3 linked regions of the Homo sapiens genome follow. The gene in region 1 interacts genetically with each later gene. Each region holds a gene or a part of one and is shown on either strand. Other genes may lie near its edges.

Region 1 (3,654 bases):
TCCCCTTTATTTATTGTCCTTTTTGAATTTAGTTTTGACGGTTTTACTTCCTTAAAAGTCTGGAGTTCCCACGTAATCAAAACTGTAACTAAAAGTATGGGGCCATTAGAATCTTGTCCTGCCACCACTTTATGAGTATTTATTATTAAGAGTATATGCCATCCTCACTGGTTATTTTGTACCGCTCAGGGAACACATGCCCACAATCTTGTCCTGCCACCACTTTATGAGTATTTATTATTAAGAGTATATGCCATCCTCACTGGTTATTTTGTACCGCTCAGGGAACACATGCCCACAATCTTGTCCTGCCACCACTTTATGAGTATTTATTATTAAGAGTATATGCCATCCTCACTGGTTATTTTGTACCGCTCAGGGAACACATGCCCACAATCTTGTCCTGCCACCACTTTATGAGTATTTATTATTAAGAGTATATGCCATCCTCACTGGTTATTTTGTACCGCTCAGGGAACACATGCCCACAATCTTGTCCTGCCACCACTTTATGAGTATTTATTATTAAGAGTATATGCCATCCTCACTGGTTATTTTTGTACTGCTCAGGGAACACATGCCCACAATCTTGTCCTGCCACCACTTCATGAGTATTTATTATTAAGAATATATGCCATCCTCACTGGTTATTTTTGTACCGCTCAGGGAACACATGCCCACTTTGGAGGAATTCTTTGAAGAAGCCATTGAACAGGCAGACCCTGAAAATATGGTGGAAAATGAATATAAGTAAGTATGCTCCTCATTAGCTCCTTTTAATTTTCTTCAATTTGTTTCTTCCTTAGGAATTGTGTGTATACTAGAAAGCCTCTTAAGAGAGGCAGTAGATAGAATAGTGCTTTTTCTCTTAGGTGAGTTTATGTTCCAAGTTCTTGTTAGTACACATCCTGATTTCAAGGATTATTCCTGTTAACTAAGCATGACTTGGAATCACCCTTGTTTCAAAATATAAGAAAAAAAAAACTCCCCCTGATCCCCATTTCTCTCCAACTATTAGTTCTGTTCTCTCTACCCTTCAAAGCACAGTATCTCACAGCAGCTGTTAACCTATCCTGTTCCCCTTAATGTTTTCTTCTCTTGGCGTCCATGAGAATCCAAATCCATGGTTCTTCTGTTTGCCCTTTGCCCTCGTTGCCCACTCCACCTCACATTCCATTTCAGCCTCCTCATCCTCTGCCTAACTCAAATTTTGGAGTAACATCAGGAATTGGTCTTAGCCTCTTTATCTAGAACCTTCTGGGTGACACCGCAGTCTCATGGCTTTAAATAGGAATTGAAGAGTAGTGGTTTAAAGGCAAGAGGCCTCTGGTCAGAATGCATAGGTTCGATTCCCTCTACCACTTACTTACTAGGCAACTAAGGCTAATTTAATTATTAAACCGCCAGTTCCCTTTCCTCATCTGTTAAATAGTAACAGTACCCATTTCACAGGGTTATTCTGAGGATTAAATAAGACAGTGCACTTTGAACCCTACAGGGCATGTGGTTAGCACTCAGTATTTGTGACTAGTGTGACCCTGTGACCAGAGTTGTTAATTACTGTGACCTCTTAACTAATCTCTCTAGTTGTGGTCAGTGCTCCATGCATCAGCCAGTGATCTTTAAAATAATTGTCCAAGTCTAATCTGCTTAAAATCTCCCAGTGAGTGCCTATTCCAAACTCCTTCCCAGGGCCTAAAAGACCTCCTTGGTCTGGCTCATACTCTCCTGTGTGGCCATGCCTCCCCTCTGCTTTAACCACAGCAGGCCTCTTGGTCCTGTCTTTCCCTTTCCTGTCAGGACCTTCACACTTTACTGTCTCACTTGCTTGAACCACTTTTTCCCCAAGGTTGCCGTGGCTTAAAGTCCCCCTGGCTGGGAAGCTCTTCCCCTCCCTGGTCTCCTCTTTTGCATTCTCGTGGTTTTTATTTCACGGCACTTACCACTATCCAAATGAGAAGGTGGCACTTACCACTTTCTCATTTCTCAAGTTTTCCTCATCCTTATGAAATTGTCTTATACCTTGTGTGTTTATCACTAGCAATGCCTGCCTTACTGTGCCTCAGGTACTCTCCACAGCTACTGAGTGCCTGGCTCAAAAGTGTTTGTCGATTGAAAGAATATTAATTTATCACTGTTACATAAGACTAGGTGGACTCATTCCTAAAGTGATAGTTCAAATTATTATCTCCAAAGAGGGTTTTGTGGAGAATAAGAAAAATGATGTGTATAATTGACAGTGAATTTTGAAAATGCCTAAAATAATCAAATTGTCTAAACAGATATGTCAGAGAGGAAGGCTCTTAACTGTTTAGGCAAAGCCTCACAGCAGGTGTTAACTTGGGAAGAGTCCCCAGTGTCTATGGGTAGTTTTTGTTAAGTCTTCAGTGGTACCTGCACATCCTAAAGGTAACATATGCTTATTTATAAGAGGTGACCAAATAAACCAAATTGCTATTCTTAGGGGAGGAAGAGACTTCCAATCCAAAACTCTTAAATGGAATAAATTTGTGGTTTGGTTTCTTCCGCAGCATTGCATATTTCTGACGCATTATCTTTAGAATTTCTCTGCAGTTTGTTTCTCACCTGATGGTATACCACCCTGATCATTGTTATACTTCATTAGGGAACAGTTCATGGATTCCAAATAGCTAGATGGATGATTCCTGTTGTATACGTACTGCATCCAGCCAGTACTGCACACACTTGTTGACTTGTTAAAATTAAACAAAATGAACGGAAACTTTGAAAATGTGTTTGCTGCATATGAGCCTGCCTCTTCAGGCATTGTTGGTTCCTGTGATTAGTTACATGTGCATCTATTGGTTTGTTATTATCAGTGGACTACATACTGAAAAGTTCTTTAGGAATAAGATTCAAATACAAAGAATGGCACTTTGAGCTATTTACCTTAAATACAGAATTACACATGGCAGAACTGAGCAGAAGGGAATACAGAAATACAAAGCTATAAATTACAAGCCTGACACCTCTTTTTATAGGGCTGTGAACAATTCAAATTATGGTTGGAGAGCCCTGAGACTATTAGCACGGAGAAGCCCTCACTTCTTCCAGCCAACCAACCAGCAGTTTAAAAGTTTACCAGAATATCTTGAAAATATGGTAATAAAGCTAGCCAAGGAATTACCGGTAAGTACCATAGATCAACTTTTCATACCCTTTAGTTGACATCTTCTTTAAAATTGCTGTCACTATGTGAGCAAAAAACTGACTTAATCATGTGAAAAACCAGTGATCCACAAGCTCCCATGTTTTAGAATGAGGGAAAAACACATTGGAATATACATTTACAGGAAATACATGAGTTGATAAAGAAGTAACTGATAATTTTCTGTACAGCATGTAATTTAAAGTTCAACAGGGCTGTGGGTGCGGTGGCTCACGACTGTAATCCCAGCACTTTGGGAGGCCGAGGCGGGTGGATCATGAGGTCAAGAGATTGAGACCATCCTGGCCAATATGGTGAAACCCCGTCTCTACTAAAATATAAAAAATTAGCCAGGTGTGGTGGCACGTGCCTGTAGTCCCAGCTACTCAAGAGGCTGAGGCAAGGGAATTGCTTGAACCTGGGAGGCGGAGGTTGCAGTGAGCCGAGATCTCGCCACTGCACTCCAGCCTGGCAACCAAGCAAGA
Region 2 (3,654 bases), on another chromosome or scaffold:
CAAGTGATATGCCCACCTCGGCCTCCCAAAGTGCTGGGATTACAGGCATGAGCCACCGTGCTTGGCCGGAATTGCAATTTTAAATCCAATTCTAAATATCTATTTGTAAAAGGAAATTAACATAAAATGTGTAATACCTAATACATTTTAACAACAAATTTAACTTCCTCCCCTTCAGCTTCTTATTTGCATTCTTGTTATCAGATGGGAACTAGATCAAAATTCCCTTTCCCTGCACATCCTAACAGGGGTATTGATGCCTTCAGTTTGTCTGTTCAGCACTATGCCAGACTCTCAGAATAATCAAAGAGGAAGATCTCTGCCCTCTAGACATTTTCACGAAAGACCTTTAGCACAAGTTCACTGTCAGTGCTGCTTGGGGGTCTTTAGGAATCCTAATGCATTCTGGATCTTTCCTGCCCCAAATACCTTGTGCTGCTCCATCTGGTTCTGAGTCTTCACTGGGGGTATAACATTAGACTTGCTGTCTAGCGTATGGTACTTGTGGAAGGAACAAACCATGACAGATCACTGAGTATCTAGTGTGGATTGGAATGCAGTTCGTAAGGAGGCCTTTTGTCCCTGGGTTTTTCAGATGGGAATCTGAGCCATTATGTCAAAAATTTTACCTCCAATTTATTCCTTACTGAAGGTGAGATATATGGGCCTTCTAGGCTGGTTTTTCCTGGTGGTAGGGGCAGACCTCTGTGTCAGAAGCCACCTGGGTTGCTTATTTAAAATGTAGGTTGGGACTTAGAGGGTGCAGCAGTTCCCATCCTAGACCTACTGAATCAGACTCTCAGGGGATAGAGGTCTGGACTCTGCATTTGTAACAGGTATAGCTCAAGTAATTATGATTTATGTTAGTGATTAAGATCACTGCCTATATGCAGGTTAATCTTTTTAGTAACACACTATAAGTATTTAGAAGAGAAATAGCTTCCTGTGTCTGCCATAGTACTTCCAAATTAAGCGTACATGTATAGGCTGGGCATGGTGGCTCATGCCCTGTAATCTCAGCACTTTGGGAGGCCAAAGTGGGAGGAACACTTGAGCCCAGGTGTTTGAGATCAGCGTAGGCAACAAAGTGAGACCTCATCTGTACAAAGACTTTAAAAATTGGCCAGGTGCAGTGGCTCATACCTGTAATCCCAGCACTTTGGGAGGCCGAGGTGGGCGGATCACCTGAGGTTGGGAGTTTGAGACCAGCCTGACCAACATGGAGAAACCTCGTCTCTACTAAAAATACAAAATTAGCCAGGCATGGTGGTGCTTGCCTGTAATCCCAGTTACTCAGAAGGCTGAGGCAGGAGAATCACTTGAACCCAGGAGGTGGAGGCTGTGGTGAGCCGAGATCGTGCCATTGCACTCCAGCCTGGGAAACAAGAGTGAAACTCTGTATTAAAAAAAAAAAAAAAAGAATTTAAAAATTAGCTGGGCATGGTGGCGTGCCTCTAGTCTCAGCTACTTGGGAGTCTGGGGTGGGAGGATTGCTTGAGCCTGGGAGGTTGAAGTTGCAGTTACTTGTGGTCCCACCGTTTCTCTTCAGCCCAGGTAACAGAGTGAGACCCTGTCCCAAAGAAAAAAAAAAAAAAGGCACTTGTATAACTAAAAGAACTTGACAGGGAGGTTTTAAGATGGCAAAACTACTGGTTCTTTTTTTTTTTTTTTTTAGGCAGGGTTTCACTCCTGTCACCCAGGCTGGAGTGCAGTGGCACAATTACAGCTCACGGCTGTAGCGTTGACCTCCCTAGCTCAGTGATCCTTCCCCCTCAGCCTCTCAAGTAGCTGGGACTACAGGTGTGCACCACCACACCCAGCTAATTTTTAAAATCATTTGTAGAGATGGGGGTCCCACTACATTGCCTAGGCTAGTCTGAAACTCCTGGGCTTGGGTGATTCTCAGGCTTTGGCCTCCCAAAGTGCTGGAATTACAGGTGTGAGCTGCCACACCAGGCCTTATTTATTTATTTGTTTGTTTGTTTATTTATTTATTTTTGAGATGGAGTCTCACTCTATCGCCCAGACTGGAGTACAATAGCACGATCTCGACTCACTGCACCTTCCACCTCCTGGGTTCAAGCAATTCTCCTGCCTCAGCCTCCTGGGTAGCTGAGATTACAGGCGCCTGCCACCACACCTGGCTAATTTTTTGTATTTTCAGTAGAGACGCTATGTTGGCCAGACTGGTCTCTAACTCCTGGCCTCAGGTGATCCAGCACCTGGCCTTATTTTAACCTTTGAAAGTTTTTAAAACTAAGACCTAGTTTGAGAGTTTGAAAGCTTTTCTTTTAGCATTTGACCTGATAGTGACTCTGTCCTTATTTTGACCACACCCTTTCTTCAACATTTTTAAATTTCAAGATACTTGCTGTTGGTGCCTATTGGGAAATAATAATTTGAGGCAAACCTCTGGGCTCTATGTCATCTCCCTTTATGGAATAATATTTATGCAGTAAGTCCTATAAAATGAAAAGCATTCAAGATAATAAAGGAACCAGAGTTCTCAATTCAAATCAGTACAACTCCGTATTTATAAAAATTTTACTCTACCTTTCTAAAAAACTAAAAATTGAGCTATGTGCACACTGGGATGCTTTATTTTATAGGTTTCTTATTTAAAATGGAGATTATATTGTCATGTCCTGTTTTTCTCTGTTTATCTAACTTGAAGTAGCAATAATTAAATTTGTCTTTGAGAGAATAGGCCCCCCTAAGTATTTTCTTTTTTCTTTTTTTTGAGACGGAGTCTCGCTCTGTCACCCAGGCTGGAGTGCAGTGGCGCGATCTTGGCTCCTGCAGCCTCCGCCTCCCGGGTTCAAACAATTCTCTGCCTCAGCCTTCCGAGTAGCTTGGATTACAGGCGCACGCCACCACGTCCAGCTAATTTTTGTATTTTTAGTAGAGACGGGGTTTCACCATCTTGGCCAGGCTGGTCTTGAACTCCTGACCTCGTGATCCACCCTCCTCGGCCTCCCAAAGTGTTGGGATTACAGGCGTGAACCACCGTGCCCGGCCAGCCCTGTAAGTATTTTCTAGGAGCTGTTTTTAGATACTACATGTAAAGAATATTATTATTATAAAGTATACTTCTATAAACCTTCCCCATAAATCTTGAGAAATTTAAAAGTTGTGCTTCTTGTTAATGTAGTGTTTTCCGCATTAATCAGAGGCAAATTTTGAAGTGTAGGAAGAGTTTGTGAGAAGTGTCAGTGTTAATTTGTGAAAACTTTAATTTGTGTCATGTTGCATCTAGCTTGATGTAATTCGCTTGTTAATTTCACTCTTTTCAAAGAGTGAGTCCCATGGGAGCTCCCTCCCCACCCAGCCCCCACCCAAGATGGAGTCTTGCTCTGTCACCCAGGCTGGAGAGCAATGGCACGCTGGGCTCACTGTAGCCTCCGCCTCTAGGTTCAAGTGATTCTCCTGCCTTAGCCTCCCGAGTAGCTGGGATGACAGGCACGCGCCACCACTCCCGGCTAATTTTACATTTTTATTAGAGATGGGGTTTCTCCATGTTGGTCAGTCTGGTCTCAAACTCCCGACCTCAGATGATCCACCCACCTCGGCCTCCCAAAGTGCTGGGATTACAGGGGTGAGCCACCACGCCCAGCCCTGGGAGCTTTAACAGTGAGGCTTTTAGGAAAAATACAA
Region 3 (3,654 bases), on another chromosome or scaffold:
TGCCTGTAATCCCAGCTGCTAGGGAGGCTGAGGCAGGAGAATTCTTTGAACCCGGGAGGTGGAGGTTGGGGTGAGCCGAGATCGCGCCATTGCACTCCAGCCTGGGCAACAAGAGCAAAACTCCATCTCAAAAAATAAAAAATAAAAAAAGAATGAAACACTAATCTTTACCATAACTATAAGGCCCTACGTAATCTCACCCCTAGCCACCTGGCTGCTACATCCTCACTTTGCTTTCCTCTCCCCATTGTGCCAGGCCCTGGCTACACCTCCTCAGCTCCATCTTTGGGGCACTGAACTGTCTGTGTCTTCTACTGTGCTCTTTCCTTCCAGACATCTTGGCTGACTTCTCTCATTTAATCCGTGTCTTATGTCAAAGCTGTGCCCTTAGGAAGACCTTCTCTGACCACCCTATTGAAGTAGCCAACCCACTCCCCCAGTAGTCTCTAATAAAACATTGCTTTATTTCCTTCCCAACCCTTATCACTCTAGGTTTATTTCTTCTCTTAGTTCTTCTTGTCTCTTGTATTAGAATTTAAGTGCCATTGTTCACTTTGATACCCCAAGTATCTAGAAAGTGCCTGGCACATGATAGGCACTCAATAAATATTTGATGAATTAGTGAATAAATGAAGACTTTGCATTCTTATATCTACTTTTTTCATTCATTGATTAATTCATAAATAATGGTATGGGGAAGTAGTAGTGGGAAGGGTTGGGTCTAATTGACATGATCCAGAAAAATGATATGATGCTAGCTGGAAGGAAGGTGGAAATTTGAAGGTAAAAATAGCCTGGTAGCCAGTGAGAAAGTACAAATGCTCAGGCTGATCAGAGCAGTGTCAGGTAGCTAGTTGTGAAGCTGCCCCTTCTGCATAATTTCTCAAAAGTCCCATCTATCAACAAGTTTGAAACTAATATATAAACATTACCTGCTATACATTTTTCCCAATCTTATTTTGCTCATCAGATACTAATTTTCATACAGGGAAATTGTCATATTTATTAAATGAGCATTCTAAAAGGATATCATTTTATTATGTGTAAGGATCCCTCTTAGTTGATGTTTAATTTAAAAAATTCAAATAAAGTGGAGAATCATTAAAAAATGGTCCATGCATCCCTTAATTGTTTTATTTTACCTTAAAATATATAAACATATGTTCATTCACTAATCATGTTATGTAAGACAGGAGTCAGAAAACTTTTTCTGCAAAGGCCAGATAATAAATACTTTTGGGTTTATGGGCCATATAGTCTCTGCTGTAACAACTCAACTCTGCCTCTGTATTTAGGGAAAACTGCCATAGACAATTTGTATATTAATGGGCAGACTGTCTTAGGAAAATGTTATTTACAAAAACTGCAGAAGTGCTGGATTTGGCCTGTAGACCCCTGATGTATGAGTTTTTCTTGCATAAATCGCTCATAATGCATTGTCTGCAATTTGTAGTTTGATTTCTAGATCAAATCAAAATGAGAACTTATCCTCTTATCAAGCAGTCTTAGGGCAGACCCTTAGTTTTTATGACTTTTCCCTGGTCCTTTCTTTATAGCTGTCCTTTGCAAGCCTCTGTAGAGTCTTTCCAAGCATTAGGCTTAGGTTTTTATAGAAAGAACTCTCTCTATTCACAATAGTCTTTCATTGGCATTTAGGTGATAGCTATTTATATAATGATAGTATTAAGTAGAACTTTTATAAATAAGTTTGGTAACCGGCACAAGCGAGTCTTGGTGAGCTGTAGTTCACAGTCAATAGCGGACTGTAGGGAGTAGCCCTGAGTGTTCAGTATGCTGTGAAAGGGTTTTTGTTGTTGTTGGTTTTTTTTTTTTAGGGAACTTATAGAAATGCTGGCAATTTCAAGAAACCAAAAGTTGTTACAGGCTGGAGAGGAAAACCAGGTAAGTGGCTTCTTTTTAAATTAGTTAATTTCTCTTTGTTTTTTAATTAAAAGAAAAAAACTTGATTTCTGCAAGTTTCCTCTTTATATTTACTTTGTGTGGGAACAGGAATGTTGGATCCTTTTAAGTTATTAATTAAAACTTTAATATTGGTATTTTCTTTGTATCATTTACTTAAGATAACAGTGCGCTTAAGAAGAATAGTTGCCTGAGGGTTTAGCAGTATTTTGTTATTTTCTCTTACAATTCTAGTCACACTTACATGTTTATTTATTTTTGTCCTTTGAATTAACCAAGAAAGGCTTGTTGTATGGAGATTACAACAATATTTAGAATCAAAAGTTAATGCTCAAAAACTTACCGTGTATTGTAAGTATAGTTCCCTAATGCAACTTGAACATGCAGGGAAATAAAAGAGCATACAACTCTTATTAGACATTGCCTTATAGGGGTGAAAGTACGGGCAGTTTTTATTTGCTCACTTTTCGGTGCTTTCTAATTTTCCATGGTGGGTGAACAGACTTTTTTTCCTGATTCAGAATTTTTTTAGAGGTAAGAGGATAAATTTTATATTATGTTTTTGGCACAGTTTTTTCTTTTTTGAGACAAGTTCTCGCTCTGTAGCCCAGGCTAGAGTGCAGTGGCATGATGACTGCTCACTGCAGCCTCAACCTGCTGGACTGAAGCGATCTCCCACTTATCCTCACCAGTATCTGGGACTATAGGCATGCGCTATAATGCCTTGCTAATTTAAAAGAAATTTTTTTTTTTGGTAGAGACATAGTCTCACTGTGTAGCCCAGGTCAGTCTTGAACTGTCTTGAACTCCTGTCCTCAAGGGATCCTCCCCACCTTGGCCTACCAAAGTGCTGGGACTATAGGCATGAGCCACCATAGCTGGCCAAAAAAAATGTTTAAGAGAAAATGAATGGAGAGGATTAACCTTTCTAAAGATGATGTAAAGGAGAAGAGGAGACAGTAATAAATCTTTTGTCTGCATCATTACCTTAGTTCTGTCTTACGTTTTGAGGGCAGGGAAATCTGACGGACTCAATAGAAAAGTGTCAGTGAGCCTCAAAAGGGGAGGAGGGGATCCAGATGAGGCCACAAGCTAGGAGAAACAGCTAACCTTAGGGGTAGTAAGGTTTTTGTTTTGTTTTTTTTCAAAAAAGAAAGAGGCTAGAGATAAATATGTTAATAGAAGACTACTAGTCTCTCAGGTACTCTGTTAATACCCGTGGGATTAAATAGGAATTTATACAAAGTATGCAAGAAGTAAAATGCAAGGCTTGACTTTATTTGATAGACACTTATTAAATGCTTGCTATGAGCCAGGCACACAGATTATTCAGAAGGTGATAATTAAGACCTATAATCAGCACTGATCTTTCTTGCACTTTTTAAAGAGTAGCAATTTGTGAATTGTGTCTTAGTACTGTGGATTCCTATGTAATTTTCATTGAAACTGTTACTATTAGAGAGGGATGTGCCCATTTGAAAATTTTCTAGCCACCATTTTATTTGGATATTTATAATTTTATATAGAATTTTAGAATTAGAAAGGATCTTAACGATGTTCAGTTCAACCTCCTGTGAGAATAAGCTCCAGGGTGGACGGATGAGGTAGAGGTTAATGGTGAGTGGAACCAGAACCTAGGTCTTCTGACTTTAGTTGAATAATTTTTTTCTACTGAACAATAAGATCTAAAGAGAATATTTTTTACTCATGGGTAGTATACAAATTAATTCAACC

The links.
Region 2: changes in THOC1 (region 1) and RTF1 together harm fitness less than expected from each alone (positive genetic interaction), as found in Homo sapiens cells (one large-scale study listed by BioGRID).
Region 3: changes in THOC1 (region 1) and MED4 together harm fitness more than expected from each alone (negative genetic interaction), as found in Homo sapiens cells (one large-scale study listed by BioGRID).

Annotation. Positions count from the first base shown.
Region 1 is NC_000018.10:215,982-219,635, reverse strand, and holds part of THOC1 (THO complex subunit 1), read left to right. Parts: intron 1-666; coding exon 667-750; intron 751-3,002; coding exon 3,003-3,150; intron 3,151-3,654. UniProt on the Homo sapiens protein: Component of the THO subcomplex of the TREX complex which is thought to couple mRNA transcription, processing and nuclear export, and which specifically associates with spliced mRNA and not with unspliced pre-mRNA.
Region 2 is NC_000015.10:41,420,054-41,423,707, forward strand, and holds part of RTF1 (RNA polymerase-associated protein RTF1 homolog), read left to right. Parts: intron 1-3,654. UniProt on the Homo sapiens protein: Component of the PAF1 complex (PAF1C) which has multiple functions during transcription by RNA polymerase II and is implicated in regulation of development and maintenance of embryonic stem cell pluripotency.
Region 3 is NC_000013.11:48,088,600-48,092,253, reverse strand, and holds part of MED4 (mediator of RNA polymerase II transcription subunit 4), read left to right. Parts: intron 1-1,835; coding exon 1,836-1,902; intron 1,903-3,654. UniProt on the Homo sapiens protein: Component of the Mediator complex, a coactivator involved in the regulated transcription of nearly all RNA polymerase II-dependent genes.